2 separate regions of the Homo sapiens genome follow, and region 2 is linked to region 1. Evidence: fine-mapped expression QTL. A gene starts in region 1. The other region holds a variant in brackets. All regions are shown on one strand. Distances are between the middles of the regions. Region 1 holds the start of ACER2 (alkaline ceramidase 2). Region 2 overlaps ACER2 (alkaline ceramidase 2).

Region 1 (8,718 bases):
ACTTTGTGACTTGATAATTTCCACTTGTGGAACCAGTTGAACTGGATATTTACTATCAGATATTTACTTATACCAAATAAACATTGTTATACACTATGTAAAAATAGAAGGTGCTGTCATTCTGAATTCCTTGCAAGGGCTGTTCCTTCAAACTTGCTCCCTTGTGGATCTGTATCACTGAGTCATGTAGGCCAAAAGCATCGTAAGCCAAATAGTTGGAACTCAGTAGTTCTGTTCCTTGCTGTCACTGCATCCTTCCCTCAACAAACTTAGTTTAGAGTAGACATCAGAATTTTGTATTCAACCACTAGCAGTAGTTTCTAAGGCATCATGCAATTAATATAAATCAATTTTAAAATTTATAACCTCCTGATAGGCCCTCTTGTTAAATTACCAATGTTGTATTTATTTTAAAAATGTTGGCTGGATGCAATGGCTCACTCCTATAATCCTAGCACTTTGGGAGGCTCAAGGGATCACTTGAACCTGGGAGTTTGAGACCAGCCTGGGCAACATGATGAAACCTTGTCTCTACAAAACATACAACATTTAGCTGGGCATTGTGGTGCACCCTTGTGGTCCTAGCTACTCATGAGGCTGAGGTGGGAGGGTCGCTTGAGTCTGGGGTGGGGGGGTCAAGGTTGCAGTGAGCTGAAATTGCACCATTGCACACCAACCAGGGTAACAGAGGGTTACCCTGTCTCAAAAAAAAAAAAAAAAGTTAACAATGTTAACAATGGGGAGAGCTATGAAAACAAAATTTTAGAGACAGTGTGACTCAAGTACGGTTTCTGTGCAGTTGTAATTAGAAGGAACCAATGTGGCTGACTGATTTTGAACTACAATTGTCACTGACAATAAGAGTTACTGTGGAGGATGAAAAACTCCCATCATTCCCTTAGCAAGACTTGGAAAGAAGGATGAATTACATTCAGCAAATTTAATATTTCACTGGTGCTAAAACTCACATTGTTTTGCGTTGTTAAATCTCTGAAATCCTGATGCATTTTACCAAGAATGGCATTTTATGATTATGGTTGGCTAGGTCATGGTTGTGATGTGGTGTCACTGCCTGCATATGTACAGACTTGGTGGTTATTCCTGGTGGGATGACTTGGCAACTGTAATCTCCATGTTTCTCTCAACAGATTATATAAGGACCATCTGGAAAAGAAACATGCTGCCTGTTGTCTGGAAACCTTCCACTGACACCTTCAGGTAAGATCAGGAGAGTCCCAGCATCAAAATTTGTAAAACAGGTGTCAGTAGTTTGCAAGAAAACAGTAGTGGAATAGTTTTAAGAAATGCTGCATTATTAGCACATAGTAATTAAGGACACAGAGGACATTTCTATATGAATGACACAGACATCAATGACTATAAGCTGAAAAATGACTCAGAAGAACAGAGATTCTGAATGTAAAGAAATTACAGGAATTCTTTAATGAATTTATTTTTGCTTATACCTTCCTTCTTAGGTATGCACAAGAGATGTATGATAACAATGTAAGTCTAAGTCTGTGCTTGTTCACTAAAAATTCTAAATGATAAAAAAGTATTACAAATAGTTTAATTGGAAATATTTCTTTTTTTTTTTTTTTTTTTTGAGATGGAGTCTCGCTCTGTTGCCCAAGCTGGAGTGCAGCGGCGCGATCTTGGCTCACTGCAACCTCTGCCCCCTGGGTTCAAGCGATTCTTCTGCCTCAGCCTCCCGCATAGCTGGAGGTGCCCACCATCATGCCCTGCTAATTTTTGTATTTTAATAGAGACGGGGTTTTGCCAAGTTCACCAGGCTGGTCCCGAACTCCAGACCTCAGAAGAGCTGCCTGCTTTGGCCTCCCAAAGTGCTGGGATTACAGGCATGAGCCACTGCATCCGGCCAGGAACATCTTTTTAACAGCAACTTTCAATCTTTTTAGTCTGAGGACCCCTTTACACTCTTAAAAAATATTGAGAACACCAGAGAACTTGTGGTTTATATGGTAACATCAATAGTTACCGCATTAGAAATTTAAACAGACTTTTAATACCAAAGAATCACAAGCACATATTCCATTAGCTGTCGGAGAGATAATGACATCACACATCATGTATCCTCTGGGAAGTTCCAATGTACACTGGTAAGAGAATGAAAATGAAAAGAAAGGGAGGAACCACACTTTGAGAATCTCTGGCATATAAAATAATGGTTTTTTAAAAATACCATTATATTTTGATGAATATGGATATATTTCCAAGTAAACTGTTGTTGGAAGAAGTAAAATATTGACTACAGGGAAAATTCTATTGCTGAACAGTTGGTGTAGCATTTTGAGACACAGAAATTAACTGATGTATCTTTCTTCTGTGGCTGTGGGAAACATCCACCCCAACCGCCCTTCGTTTTTGAGATGGAATCTCGCTCTGTCACCCAGGCTGGAGTGCAGTGGCGCGATCTCGGCTCACTGCAAGCTCCGCTTCCCGGGTTCACGCAATTCTCCTGCCTCAGCCTCCTGCGTAGCTGGGACTACAGGCGCCCGCCACGACGCCCGGGTAATTTTTTGTATTCTTTTTTTAAGTAGAGACGGGGTTTCACCATGTTAGCCAGGATGGTCTCCATCTCCTGACCTCGTGATCCGCCTGCCTCGGCCTCCCAAAGTGCTGGGATTACAGGCATGAGCCACCGCGCCCGGCCCTCAACCGCCTTTCTTAGGTGGCCAGCTCACTCCGGGTATCCTGTAGGTCTGGGTAAATCAACCCTAGGGGAAGGTAAGAGTGTATCTTCTACTTGGGTTCTGGAGGGCAGTGGAATTGCCCGTAAAGCAGGAGGAAGGGATAGAGGTTGGGACAAAGATGAAAGGAGGAGTGTGGTTTGGCCCCTGGGGGACAAACCTGGATTTTCTAGAGACTAGGAGAGGCGGCGGGGCTTGCAGTTTTTGTCAGTGATGGAGATCTCTGGGGACTTGCACATGGCTGTGTGGGTACTGGTGGGCAGACAAACACTTGGTGCAGAGGACACTGAAGCACCACCCAGGGTCCTGCTGGGCAGTCAGGCCCAGAGAGAGGGCAGACCCTGGGGAGTTGCTGGCCTTTAGGATACCCTGCGGGTCCGAGCAAGACGTCCTAATGACAGTCACCAATGGGCTGCTGCCCAGGGCCTCTTCTGCCGCTGTCCTGACCTAGAATCCTACAACCTTTCAAGGAAGGAGAACGGGAGCCACCACATACACACAGAGGGTGGCTTTCCTCTAGGGATCCTGGGAACCAGATTGGCTTTCATTTACAAACCGCAGAACAGTTACAGAAGCAAAAGAAGGTAGTTATGACTGGATCTGAGGACATCTTGCCTGAATTGAATTTCCAGCTCTGTCACTTGCTAATAGAAGCCCCTCACAGGGTCTCTGCTGGGCACACTAAATGAGTGATACATGGAAACTCTTCAGACAGCACCTGGCATGTGTATGTTATCTATCACCTCTTGAACCTCGATATCTTGGAGATGTCATAACTGCCACACTACATCCTCTGCAGTTTGGGATGGCTGACGTTTGACCCTTTGCCTAAGTCCCCATATCGAAGGCTAGATTAAGCCTTAACGCTGGAGCCAAGGGGAGGGAGGGCAGGAACGTACTCTAAATAGAAGTGCTCCCCCGGGGACTGGGCGGCCCAACCTGCTCCAGCAGCCGGGAAGGTCTTCCTGCCACAGTGACCGCAGCGAGTGGCGTCCGGCCTCGGAGGGACTGAGGGCACTTCTCTGGTGTAAGCACTGGCGTCCAACGCCGGACGCAGCAAAATCGCTGCAAACTCTGGGTCCAGAGAGGTCCAGGTCCTCCCGGGTTTCTTTTTATTTTAAATTTTTTTCCAGGGAGAGTTCTGGCGCTCCTTCAATCGGGGGAGGCTGCGAGTCTGAGCCAGGAGATGGGCGTGGGCAGGCGTGGGTAGCACCATCGAGGCCCTGGCCACCTGCCGGGTGCTGGGTAGTCTGGAAGAGTCTGGAGCCCGGTCTCCGCCTCCAGGCGCCCCACCCTGGACCCCTCCTCCACGCGGGTCCCGCCCCACGGTGGGCGTGGCTTCCAGGGGGAGGGGCCGGGGAGGGTCTGCGAACGAGTAACCTCCCGCAGGCGAGGCGAGGCGGGGCGGAGCGCGGGAGGCCAGTTGGGAGGCGCACATCCGGCGGTTACCCGGTGCTTCATAAAGCCGCTTTCGCCGCTGGCTGTCGCCGCGTTTTGCCTCCGCAGCAGCTCTGGGCTCTTCTCAGCTGCGCGAGCAGCTGCTCCAATGCCCCGGAGTGGCCATGGGCGCCCCGCACTGGTGGGACCAGCTGCAGGCTGGTAGCTCGGAGGTGGACTGGTGCGAGGACAACTACACCATCGTGCCTGCTATCGCCGAGTTCTACAACACGGTGCGGGGCGCGGGAGCGGGGAAGGCAGGCGGGCCAGCGGGAGGGGGCTGTTCCCGCGCCGCAGCGTCTGGAAGCTGGACGTGGGTCTCTGCGCGCATCTGGGGGCATTCTCTCCAGGGGCTGAGTCAGTCCACACCCCCTCCTCGGCGCGCTCCTTTCAGTTCTCCATCTGTCCTCCTCTCCTGTCCCCATTCCCGACAGCTGGGCTCATCTTCCTCCTGCTGTCATTTGTTTTGTGATGGTCCTATTGTCTTGTTTGGCCCCCACGCGTCCAGGAACCAGGGGTCTGTGTCAGCCCATTCTCCTTGTTTGGGTCAGCTGGGGGCGGTGAACCTGCCGGGACAAGTCTCTTCCTCCCCTGGGATCTCTGTGGCGTGACGCACTTGGGTCGCATTGTGCTTTTTTGCCCTGAATACCTGCTCTCGGAGTGCTGGGAAGAGCACGCCCCCCGCAGGTCCCCGCGGCTGGGGTCACTCCCACCAGGCAGACTTGCCCCACCCCCAAGAACATGCCTATAATGGTCGAGTTATTTTTGGTCAGAATCAAGTTAATTACTACTTGTTTTTTTTTCTTGCCTTTAGTGTCCTGTCTTGTGCAAGCCGCTAATTCAACTCCCCCAGGACTGTGCTTTCTCCAGTTCTGAAGTCTGAGGGATGAAAGGAAAGTTTGGGAGTGATAATGTGCGGGTTTTGGATTTGCCTAGGTCCCTAGATAAGGGTGAGCAGAAACTTCCCCATTGCAGAATCCTGTGTGATTTTAGTTCTTGTGGTAGGGAAGGGTTGCAGCTGGGAGAGGAAATGCCTCTTATTTTGTGTATGTCCATGGCTCAGAATCCTGGTACAGAATGTGAGACTTTGCGTGGTCATTTCTGTGGCTTATCTTTTCACCGCCCAAACAAGGGAAACAGGAACTCCTGGTTTGGGTCATTGTGAATTTGAGGTTGTTGTTTAGGACTTTTCCTTTTGGATTTGCTAGAGAGAATGTCTTCAGCAGGAGTCAGGTGCTTACTGCCTGCAGGAATCTCAGATGATCTAGTCCCTGTCCTTTTATTCATCTGATGAGAAAACTGGGCTCTTGAGGAGGGAGCTGTCATGCTCACATTTCTGGCATGGCTGGGGCCACAATCCAGAAGTCTGGGCCCTTCCTTCCCTCAGTGCTGAAATCCATGGCTGGCTTCCACACAAACACTCCTGCTCCTTTTTTTATGATTAGGTTGGTTCCTTAAGAAAACCTAAGGCTGGGCGTTGTGGCTCACACCTGTATTCCTAGCACTTTGGGAGGCCAAGGCAGGTGGATCGCTTGAATCCAGGAGTTCGAGACCAACCTGGGCAACATGGCGAAACCTCATCTCTACAAAAAAATACAAAAATTAGCTGGACATGTGGCACACACTTGTCGTCCCAGCTACTTGGGAAGCTGAGGTGGGAGGATCACCTGAGCCTGGGAGTTGAAGGCTGCAATGAACTGAGATCGCGCCACTCCACTCCAGCCTGGGCAACAGGGTCTCAAAGAAAACCTGGCCCTCTGCTGACCACAGATACTGTGAAAGACAGTGGAAGTGGCCATGACTTATGTATTGCATAACCTCCCAGAGCATGCTGTCAGGGGTAAATAGTTGCACACAGAGGATGGGCTGGAGTAGTTCTGGGTACTTTCAATAAGGAGAAACACCAGTGGTAACACAAGCTGTCCTTTTGTAAATAAAGAATATAGTGAAAGAGTAAGGATTTCACCAGAGTTCAAGAAGAAAAGACAGCTTGATGACAGGTTCTCACACACTTAGCAAGATTATTCTCTGTGCAGCCTGGGGTCTACAGAGAGGGTCAACCTTGGTTATTTTGGCCAAAAAAGCTAGTGTATGGCTTCTCTGAGTCTGTCTTGAAAAGTGTCATAGGGCTGGATGAAAGGGAGAGTTTGTCTTTACTTTTAATCTAGTCCCATTGGAGCCGTTACTCTATGTAGTGAGTGCTAAAGTCTTTTTCAGAAACTAACTGTTGATCTTCAGCTGCATTGTCTGGCTGATGAGCCCAGCTGGCCCATCTGACAAACTTTATTCCTTGGAATACTCATAAACCACAAAATTTGCTCTGGCAAAGCAGAGAGCGTAAGGTGTCAGAGAATAAGGTCATTGCCTAACTTTGTTGAGTGTAGGTCCAAAGAATTTAGCAAAAAACGTTTCTTCCCCTCTGTTGCTATTTAAAAAAATTTTTTTTTGAGATGATCATGCTCTGTTCCAGGCTTGAGTGCTGTGGTGCGATCTTGGCTCACTGCGACCTCCACCTCCAGGTTCAAGCGATCCTCCCAAAGTGCTGGGATTACAGGCGTGAGTCACCATGCCCGGCCTTCTTCCCCTGTGTTCTTACGTACTACTTATATTTTGATGCTTATCACAGGACATTCCCATGCTTATCTTACTCCTGTGTTGAGAAAGACAGTAGACTGTTATGTGGTGATAAATATCGTCTTAAATCCTCATAATAAGGCAACAGGTCTAATTACCCAGTTTATAGGAAACTCATAATCATTACCAGTTTTGAGAAAAAGTTGGAGGAATTGACAATGTTAAATCAGGAGAAGACCGGGAGAGGGATCTAGAACCTTCTTAATGGGTCTTAGGGGTAGCACATCACTACTACACCTTCAGATACTACTGTCTACCATTACTTAATTGCTATGTGTTGAAGCTCTGCTGGGTACTGTATACTCATTCTAGACAATGGGTGCTATTTATTATATCCATTTGATAAAGATGGAAATTGGGGCCTAGAGAGTTTATGTAACTTGCTGTGGTCAAGAGCATAGCACAGCTGAAGTCAGAACTTGGTCCATTTGACTCTACCAAGAGAGTTATCTTGAAGCTATAAGTGCCACTGTAACTAACTTAGATTTATCTATTTGGCATAGAATAGATATTTATTATTTAGTCATTCCATAACTTAAAACTCCTGTCTTGGGATCATTTTATCTCTAGGATAAAACTCATACTTTTTGATAGGAAAAAAGTTTATTTAAAGTAGTTTGTAAAATTACTGTTTATTGTAAAAGTAATATGATCATGGTAAAAAATTTAGAGTATGTAAGTTGTAGAGTGAAAAATAACCTTCTGTATCTTTCTAGATATTTTCTAGGCATATAAAAAGCACATGTATCTGTGTGCATATAAAATACGCATGTATAAGGCTGGGGGCAGTGGCTCATGCCTGTAATCTCAGCACTTTGGGAGGCTGAGGCAGGCAGATCATTTGAGGTCAGGAGTTTGAGACCAACCTGGCCAACATGGTGAAACCTCATCTCTACTAAAAATACAAAAATTTAGCTGGTTGTGGTGGTGCGTGCCTGTAAGTCCCCGCTACTCAGGAGGCTGAGGCAGAAGAATAGCTTGAACCTGGGAGGTGAAGGTTGCAGTAAGCTGAGATCGCGCCACTGCACACTCTAGCCTGGGCAACAGAGCAAGATTCTGTCTCAAAAAAAAAAAAAAAAAAACCAGCATGTATGGCGTAATCACGAATACTTGAAGTTTTTTTCCAAGATGGTACTGTGTAAACTCTTATGTACCTTGTGTTTTTCACTTAATATGTCTTGGAGATATTTCCATATCAGCTCATATAGTGCTCTCTTCCTGTTTATAATGTTTATACAGTACTCCCTTTAATGGATTGATCATAATTTATTTATCTAATCAATCCTTATTGATGGACATTTCATATAGTTTCTCTCTGTTTTATTGTTTTCATTTTGGTTTTTGAACAGTGATTCAGTGAATATCCTCATTCATGCATCTGGATGTACTTTCGCAAGCACTAATCTTAGATGGGGATTGCTGTGTCAAGGAGGATATTCAGTTTAAATGCTGATAATTATTGTGAAATGGCACACTAAAGAGAGTGCACTGATTTGACTTCCACTGACAATGTTTGGGCATACAAAACATTTTGCTTTGGCCTCTGCAAATTTCTGTTGCCTCAAATTGTATCATCCTTTGCTTCAGCCAAGCCTAATATCTCTTCCATGAACATGTAATTTCCTTTCACAGCCTTTTACTTGTGCACATTTTATACTGTTTCTTCTATATACAAATTTTATTAATTGAGTTCCTTTTTATGTTTTAAGATTTAAGACCCCCTGGCTGGGCGCGGTGGCTCACGCCTGTAATCCCAGCACTTTGGGAGGCTGAAGTGGGAGGATCACTTGAGGTCAGGAGTTTGAGACCAGCCTGGCCAACACGGCGAAACCCCATCTTTACCAAAAATACAAAAAACTAGCCAAGTGTGGTGGTGTGTGCCTGTAGTCCCAGCTACTAGGGAGGCTGAGGCAGGAGAATTGCTTGAACCTGGGAG
Region 2 (8,377 bases), 38 kb after region 1:
CCCTGTCAGCCAGGATGGTCTTGATCTCCTGACCTCGTGATCCCCCGGCCTTGGCCTCCAAGAGTGTTGGGATTACAGGCATGAGCCACCGTGCCTGGCCAATAATCTTAAATAATCTAAAAATAATGTTCTGCCCAAATTACAAATTACCAAATTAGGGTCCATTTATGCATAATTTTATCCATTAATTCAGGAAGCATTTAACAGTGCCTGGCACAGTTGCCAGGCATGGAGTATACATTAGTGAATAAAACAGGGGTAGTTCCTCTGGGATTCTAGGCTAGTTTGTTTGTTTGTTTGTTTGTTTATTGAGATGGAGTCTTGCTCTTGAAGCTCAGGCTGGAGCAGTGGTGCGATCTCAGCTCTCTGCAACCTCCACAATCTGGGTTCAAGTGATTCTCCTGCCTCAGCCTCCCAAGTAGCTGGGATTACAGGCATGTGCCACCACCCCCGGCTAATTTTTGTATTTTTGGTAGAGACGGGATATCACCACATTGGCCAGGCTGATCTCCAACTCCTGATCTCAAGTGATCCTCCCACCTTGGCCTCCCAAAGTGCTGGGATTACAGGGGTGAGCTCCCGGCCTCTAGGCTAGTTTAATACCAGATGTTACACAGATAATAAATTCATAGTTTCAACTTGTGATGAGAGTTATGAAGGAACATGGCAGGGTGCCCTGAGAGAATGCGCTAAGGCAGGGGTGTCCGCTCTTTTGGTTTCCCTGGGCCATATTGGAAGAAAAATTGTCTTAGGCCACACAAAAAATACACTAATGATAGCTGATGAGCTAAAAAAAAAAAAAAGAAAAGAAAAAAAAAAAGAAAGTCGCAAAAAAAAAAAATCTCATAATGGTTTTTTTTTTTTGAGACGGAGTCTTGCTCTGTCCCCTGGGCTGGAGTGCAGTGGCGCGATCTCGGCTCACTGCAAGCTCCGCCTCCCGGGTTCACGCCATTCTCCTGCCTCAGCCTCCCGAGTAGCTGGGACTACAGGCGCCCGCCACCACGCCCGACTAATTTTTTTGTATTTTTAGTAGAGACGAGGTTTCACCGGATTAGCCAGGATGGTCTCGATCTCCTGACCTCTGGTCCGCCCGCCTCGGCCTCCCAAAGTGCTGGAATTACAGGCTTGAGCCACCGCGCCCGGCATAAAATCTCATAATGTTTTAAGAAAGTTTACAAATTTGTGTTGGGCCTCATTCGAAACCATCCTGGTCGGCATGCAGCCTGTGGGCCACGGTTGTGGACGAGCTTGCACTGAGGGGAGACCTATAGTATCTGGCATTGTGTGTGGGAAGAAGCCTGGAGACTGAGCCCTGGAGAGAAGGAGAGGGTGGGTCAAGGTGAGAGATGAGCTCTTTTTGAGAGGGAACCAGCCCAAAGGCGAGGCATTCAAGGTAGAGAGTGGTAATCGAAAGCGAGAAATGGAAATTGTTATCTCTTTGTTTTAGTAACTGGGAATGTAAGTCTCCCCATGTCATCGGCCTCTATTCTTTCTAAAAACTTTTCAAGGGATGTATTTAGCCTTCCTACAAGAGTATTTTGATTTGTTTTTGAACAGGTCTTTCTGAACCTGTCCCACTTTTATTGATGCTTTCGCTGATGTTTGTGAAAGGCATCTGGGAAGGGCACTAGCCAGTCAGGCTTTTAACACCTGTCTGTGGGTTCAACAAAGAGGAATTAAGCTTCTTCTCAATTGCAGATGTCGTGTTGTATTCTGGGTCCCATAGGAGATCTTGACTGACCCAGGAGTGGTCCCCTCCGGGAAGAAGGACGCTCAGCCACCAGCTGCCCCCAGGTGTTCGTCCCCAGGGGTAGAACTCACCCACTTTATGAGCAAGTCTTTGTCAAGGAAAGAAGACGGCAATTGAAATTTTCATTGAGCTGTTAGCATTTTTTTCAGAAAACCATTTTGTCCCAGTGTGTGTAAGAAGTTATTCCTTCATTCAACACATGTTGAGTGCCTTCTGTGTCTGGCACATTTCCAGGTGCTGGGATACAGCAGTAAACAGATTCCATGTCAGTGGATAAACACACACTGGAAACACATAAGTGAAACACAGAGGGTGTCAGGGAGGTTATAATCACTACCTAGAAAATTAAAGGAGGGAAGGAGGCCTTAGGGAGAGTCACCTGGGAGGTGGAGACAGGTGTTGAAATTGTTAAAAATAGCATCAGGAAAAGGCTTACTGAGTGACATTTGAGCAAAGATTTACATGTGAGGGAAGAGCATTCCAGGCAAGAGGGCACAGTGAGTGCTATGGTCTTGCAGGAGCATGCTTGGGATATTTGTGGAACAGCACAAATCCTGCAGTGGCTTGAGTATGGGCAGTGAGAGGGAAGAGTACACACGAGAGGAGGTGAAGGGGAAAAGGGAAGATCATGCATCCGGGGCCTTGTGGCCACTGTGAATACTTTGGCTTTCCCTCTGGTTAAACAGGAAGATGCTGGAGGCTGTTAAATTGGCTGTAGGGGCAAGGGTGGAAGGAGACTCTGATGAGATGGCGGTAGCATGGATCTAGATGGAGGTGGTGGAAAGAGGTCAGGTTTGAGATATTTTGAAGGGAGAGCTGATGGACTAGATGTGGGCTATGTGAGAAGGAGAAAGATTGGGAGAAGAATAGGTTATGGACTTGTTAAATTTAGATCCATATTAGGGTGCTCGTGTCAAAAATGTAGTTGGGTGTATGAGTCTGGAGTCAGGAGAGAAGCCTGGGTGGGAAGGGTGTCTGTGAGCCATCTGTGTACATATGGTATTTACATCCATGAGACTGTGGAGTGACTGTGTGTTGGGTAAGAACTTCAGTGTCTTGGGGTTGTAGGCATGAGAGGAACCAGCGAAGGAGACACAGGAAAGGTGGCCAGCAAGGAGGTGGAGACAAGGTCTGACGATGAGTGACTCTCTGGACCCCCGTGCAGGTGTGACAACATGCGTGTGTTTAAGCTGGGCCTCTTCTCGGGCCTCTGGTGGACCCTGGCCCTGTTCTGCTGGATCAGTGACCGAGCTTTCTGCGAGCTGCTGTCATCCTTCAACTTCCCCTACCTGCACTGCATGTGGTAAGCCCCTGCTAATGGGGAGGTGGCCGGGGACAGGTGTGTTTGCACTTGCTGTTGGGCTCTGTTCACCCTGCAAGTGGTGCACAGGTGTCCTGTGGGTTGCTGGCTTGCTTCTCTCCTCAGGTGGACGGTCAGATGGTTCAGAAGCCACTGAAAGCACACTTTGTAAAAAGCTGAATTGACTCCAGGGAGCAGGCTTAGCCGGAACGAAAGGCCTGATTGTCATGCTTAGGTCTGCAGTCTTTTACCTCTAACTCCATTATTAAAGCCTAAAGGAGCTTGAGAACTGAACCTGTAACCTGAGCTCTAGCTAGGTGTTGGGGGAGGGGAGAGGTAGGGGAAAGCTGGGGAAAGAGGTGATGTGAGGGCTGGGAGGGTCCTCAGTGGGAACCCCACCTTTAGGGCCTGAGAGACCAAGTGCAAGGAGGGGCCGCACTGGCCATTTAGAGACATTCTCTTCCATTATTTCTATAAGTGGGGACAGAAGACCAGAGAGCTAAAGTGAATTGTTTAATGTCACCCACCTGTTTCTGTAGAAAACAACCTTGGAGTTCAGTAATAGCACATTGGAGCGTCTATACTTTGGAATGCTCAGGATACACTAAGTTAAAAAAAAAAAAGCGGGTTACAAAATACATGCAGAATCCGATTCTGAGAAAGCTGGGGGAAATTGGAGTGGCTTTCTTCCTAGGAACTGCTTCAGCCTCAAACCCAGAGTGATCTTTCCTTTCTGTCCTCCAGGACTTCTGATTGCAAAAGATCACAAGGAGGAGAAATCTGCTGTAGGTTATCCCCTATAGGTAGGAGGAACCCAGAGAGGAATTCTAGTGGTGAAGAAATGGAAAAACTTTGTTAGATCTAGATTCAGGAAAAGGTTGACTTCTATCCAGAGATAGGCTAAAAATATACAATTTGATAGAATTCACTTAAGTTCCCTTGCTCATGTGAACTTTGATATATTTGCTATGAGACCCACCCTACTCTAAATTTAAGACTTGGGGACTTCAAGGAGTGTTTGTAAAAGACAAAATTCAAACAGCACAAGTTGGAGTTTACCGTCTTAGGATCCATTGCTCGATATTTTTTAGATTCAACTCAACTAATACTAGTGAATTTATATAGTTTATATATTTGTTGGGTTATAATTTCCAGATAACAAAATGTACAGATTTTAAGTGTATATTGTGAATTTTGAGAAATGTATACACTAGGTAAATATGACCTCATTCAAGATGGTCATTTTTATCTAAGTCCCCTGTCACACATGATTTAAGTCAAATTCGAAATTTAAACTATGTAATAATTTTGACTCAAACTTAATGTGTTTCTGAATTTGGTATATTTCTGCTTTGTTTTTCAAAGTTGAACCATATTTTCTTTCCAGTTATAAAATGACATATTTTTTATAACAAATTTAAACAACATAGAAGTATAGAAAGAATGGCTCTCATAATTCTATCCC[C/T]CAAAGAAACATAATTATTAACAGTCTGATGTATATCCATTGAGATTTTATATGTACACACACACGCACACATATATATGTCTACTTTTAAAAAAAATAGCATCATTCTATACACGATGCAAACTTTTTTTTTTTTTTTTTTTTGAGACAAAGTCTCACTCTGTTGCCCAGGCTGGAGTGCAGTGGGGTGATCTTGGCTCACTGCAATCTCTGCCTCCCGGACTGAAAGTGATTCTCCCACCTCACCCCCTGCAGGGAGCTGGGACTACAGGTGCATGCCACTGTGCCAGGCTAATTTATTTTGAATTTTTTTGTAGAGATGGATTTTTGCCATGTTGCCCAGGCTAGTCAGAAACTCCTGGGCTCGAGCAGGTCCACCTGCCTTGGGCTCCCAAAGTGCTGGGATTACAGGCATGAGCCATTGAGCCTGGCCCAAACTTTTTTTTTAACCAAATACTTAAATCTATACTACATAGATCTAATGCTATACAGACATCATTCCATACCAATACATATATATAATCTTCATTTTTGTGTCTAATAAATGCTTCATAATATGGACACTTTATAATTTATTTAACCAACCTCTCTCTGATAACGGACTTTGAGGTTATTTCTAATTTTCCACTTTTGCAAACACTTTATAATGAACATCTAGATTGATTTGAGTTTCTGAATATTTTCATATGTTAAATTAATATTATATATTGCTAAATCCAGAGAAACTGTACCATTAACACTGTTTACTGAAGTCTGTAAGAGAGCATTTTTTACCCACACTTTCACATATACTGGAAACTCTTAAATCTCCATTAACCTGTTTGAGAAAAATTATATTTTGTTTTTATTATTATGTCTTTTTAAAAAATTAGTATTTTTGTTGGGCATCTTTTCAAATGTCAATTTGTGATGTGTATTTCCCCTTTTAATTTTCTTTGTCTGGTCTATTGAGTGTTTCTATTTTTAAAAGTTCATATCAGCCGGGCGTGGTGGCTCACGCCCGTAATCTCAGCACTTTGGGAGGCCGAGGCAGGTGGATCACCAGGTCAGGAGATCGAGACCATCCTGGCTAACACGGTGAAACCCCGTCTCTACTAAAAATGCAAAAAATTAGCCGGATGTGCATGTAGTCCCAGCTATTTGGGAGGTTGAGGCAGGAGAATCGTTTGAACCTGGGAGGCGGAGATTGAAGTGAGCTGAGATTGTGCCACTGTACTCTAGCCTGAGCAACAGAGTGAGACCCCGTCTCCAAAAAATAAAAAATAAAACAGTTTATATTCAGCATCTAGGCTTGGCACATAGTAGACAGTCATTACTAGCTACGTAACTATGTGCCACTTATGCATATTTGCAACATTTTCACAAGTACAGAGAATAATACATTGAACCCCCATATAGGCAACACCCAGATTCCATAACTATCAACACGAGGCCAATCTGGTTCATACCATTCTCACCTACTTCCCACCCTGACCCTGATTAATTTCTTTAGTGTTCTTTGTATGTAGGGATTTAAACTTTGTCATATGGTACAAATATTCCCTGCCCCCCTGCAGTTTCTCATTTGTCTTTCAGTATATTAATATTTTTGTGCCATACTGGTTTTAAACTTTCATATTGTCACATCTGTTAATCTTTTCTATAGGATTTCTGGATTTTGTGTAATTTTTAAAAAGATCCCCTCCTCCCCAACATCAAAGTTTATAAAAATATTGTCTTTGGGCTGGGCGCAGTGGCTTACGACTGTAATCCCAGCACTTTGGGAGGCCGAGGCAGGTGGATTACCTGAGGTCAGGAGTTCAAGACCAGCCTGGCCAACATGGTGAAACCCCCTCCCTCTCTACTAAAAATACAAAAATTAGCTAGGTGGGCCTGGTGGTGGGTGCCTGTAATCCCAGCTACTTGGGAGGCTGAGGCAGGAGAATTGCTTGAACCCAGGAGGCAGAGGTTGCAGTGAGCCGAGATTGCACCATTGCACTCCAGCCTGGATGACAGGGTGAGACTTCATTTAAAAAAAAAAAAAAAAAAAAAGGATTACATGCTTTTAAATGGTCTATTGTTCGATAAAGTTTAATATAAATTTAAAACTTTGTACAGGTACAGTGAGGATAAATTTTTTAAAATTTCCACTAAACTGCAAAAGTGGTTTAACCAACATAAAATTATTCCTGATGAAGGACATAAAATATCTGTAACCAGTTGTTAAAGTGAGAAGGTGGGTTCTAATCAGATGTGCTCAGTTACTTCCATCTTAGCATCTCTGTTGTAAATCCTTGGGCCTCAGTCTTCTTGTTTGAGGCCCAAAGGCATTTATTTGCACATTTGTTCCTATTATCCAGCAGGACTATTTAAGAACATTCTAAAACGGGTCCCAAATTGCTGAAGATTTATCATCCTGCTATTCCAGGGATTGTTGGTAATCTTCATCCTTTCCTAATTAGAAGAGGCCCCTGGGCTGCAACTACAGTCAGCAAGGTGCGTGGGTTAGACCGGAAGAAGGAGCAGGCTAAACTCAGGGCAGCGGAGTCTTCATGCTCATCAGGTTCTCACCTCTTGTCTCCCTCTGCAGGCACATCCTCATCTGCCTTGCTGCCTACCTGGGCTGTGTATGCTTTGCCTACTTTGATGCTGCCTCAGAGATTCCTGAGCAAGGCCCTGTCATCAAGTTCTGGCCCAATGAGAAATGGGCCTTCATTGGTGTCCCCTATGTGTCCCTCCTGTGTGCCAACAAGAAATCATCAGTCAAGATCACGTGATGGCAAGATGGTGGCTGGCTTCTCTGCTTATCGCCCCTCATGCAGTGGGCTTCCTTTGCTAGGAAGACAGCCAAGGGAGTTCGAATAGTTGGGGTGTGGGCTATCTTTTCAAAAATCTATTTGCTGGGGCTCTTAATTTCTTTAGTGTTCTTTGTATGTAGGGATTTAAACTTTGTCATATGGTACAAATATTCCCTGCCCCCCTGCAGTTTCCCATTTGTCTTTCAGTATGTTAATATTTTTGTGCCATACTGGTTTTAAACTTTCATGTTGTCACATCTGTTAATCTTTTCTTTAGGATTTCTGGATTTTGTGTAATTTTTAAAAAGGTCCCCTCCTCCTCCCTAATGTGTCTGTGGACCACCTGGATTCCACTGTACAAGGGGAAAAGTGTCTATTCCTTTCCCAAAGATGGAAAATGGAGGGCTTAGGGACACTAGATGCATCTTTCTCAGCATCACTTCCAGATGCAGTGACTTGTTGGGCTGCGTCCTTAATGGCCATGGCAGAGCAGTCCCTTGGGGGATCCAGCCCTGTACAATGCATCTCTTCCTGGAGAAAGCTGGCCTGCTCCAGACCCCACCATTCCCAGGCGCCCTTGGAGTGGACTCTACTGATGACAGACAGACCCTCTGAGAGACAAGACCCTCTGACTCTGTGATGGAAGATGCCAGAGATTTTCCTTTGGGGTAATTGTCCTTAAACAAAACCAAACAGATGAAACACACACAGGACTTGTGGCTAAAAAGGCTAGTTTTTCACTTGCATTTCTCAACTAACCCAGGTTTTACATGCATCTGTGAATCCTTTTACTACTACCTCTGTGGAGAGATGGAGAGACTTCAGATAAACGTGAAGCTAATGAGTAAAACCCTCTCTGCCAAAACCTACACTCCACTTTAGGCCCTTCTTGAAGATGAGCACAATTTTTAAATACTGAGCACAATTTTTAAATACTGACATCACTTCCTCTTCCCCCTCCCACCCCAGCTCAGCAGCCTCAAATCTACAGAGAAGAAGAATTATGGCATGAACATTCCCACAGACCCACCATCTTTAAGACTTGACCTCTGTAAGTTTACCAAAGGGCTCCTCACAATTGTGGT

Evidence for each region. PIP is the estimated chance that this variant, and not a neighbour inherited with it, causes the effect.
Region 2: its variant is fine-mapped to the expression of ACER2 in nasal epithelium (TOPMed, PIP 0.96).

What each region holds. Positions count from the first base shown.
Region 1 is chr9:19,404,812-19,413,529 of GRCh38, forward strand. It overlaps ACER2 (alkaline ceramidase 2), which reads left to right and starts at 4,198. Exons shown (of 6, transcript NM_001010887.3): 1 at 4,198-4,381. The coding sequence starts at 4,274. RefSeq lists enhancers at 3,168-4,025, 4,026-4,881, 4,294-4,443 and a silencer at 3,904-4,193.
Region 2 is chr9:19,443,366-19,451,742 of GRCh38, forward strand. It overlaps ACER2 (alkaline ceramidase 2), which reads left to right. Exons shown (of 6, transcript NM_001010887.3): 5 at 2,916-3,053; 6 at 7,085-8,377. The coding sequence ends at 7,271. Among named protein-coding and RNA genes, the nearest start is that of MAP1LC3BP1, 16 kb to the right of the region's middle. RefSeq lists enhancers at 2,694-3,893, 2,832-3,578. The variant C/T (reference allele first, on the strand shown) is at 4,516.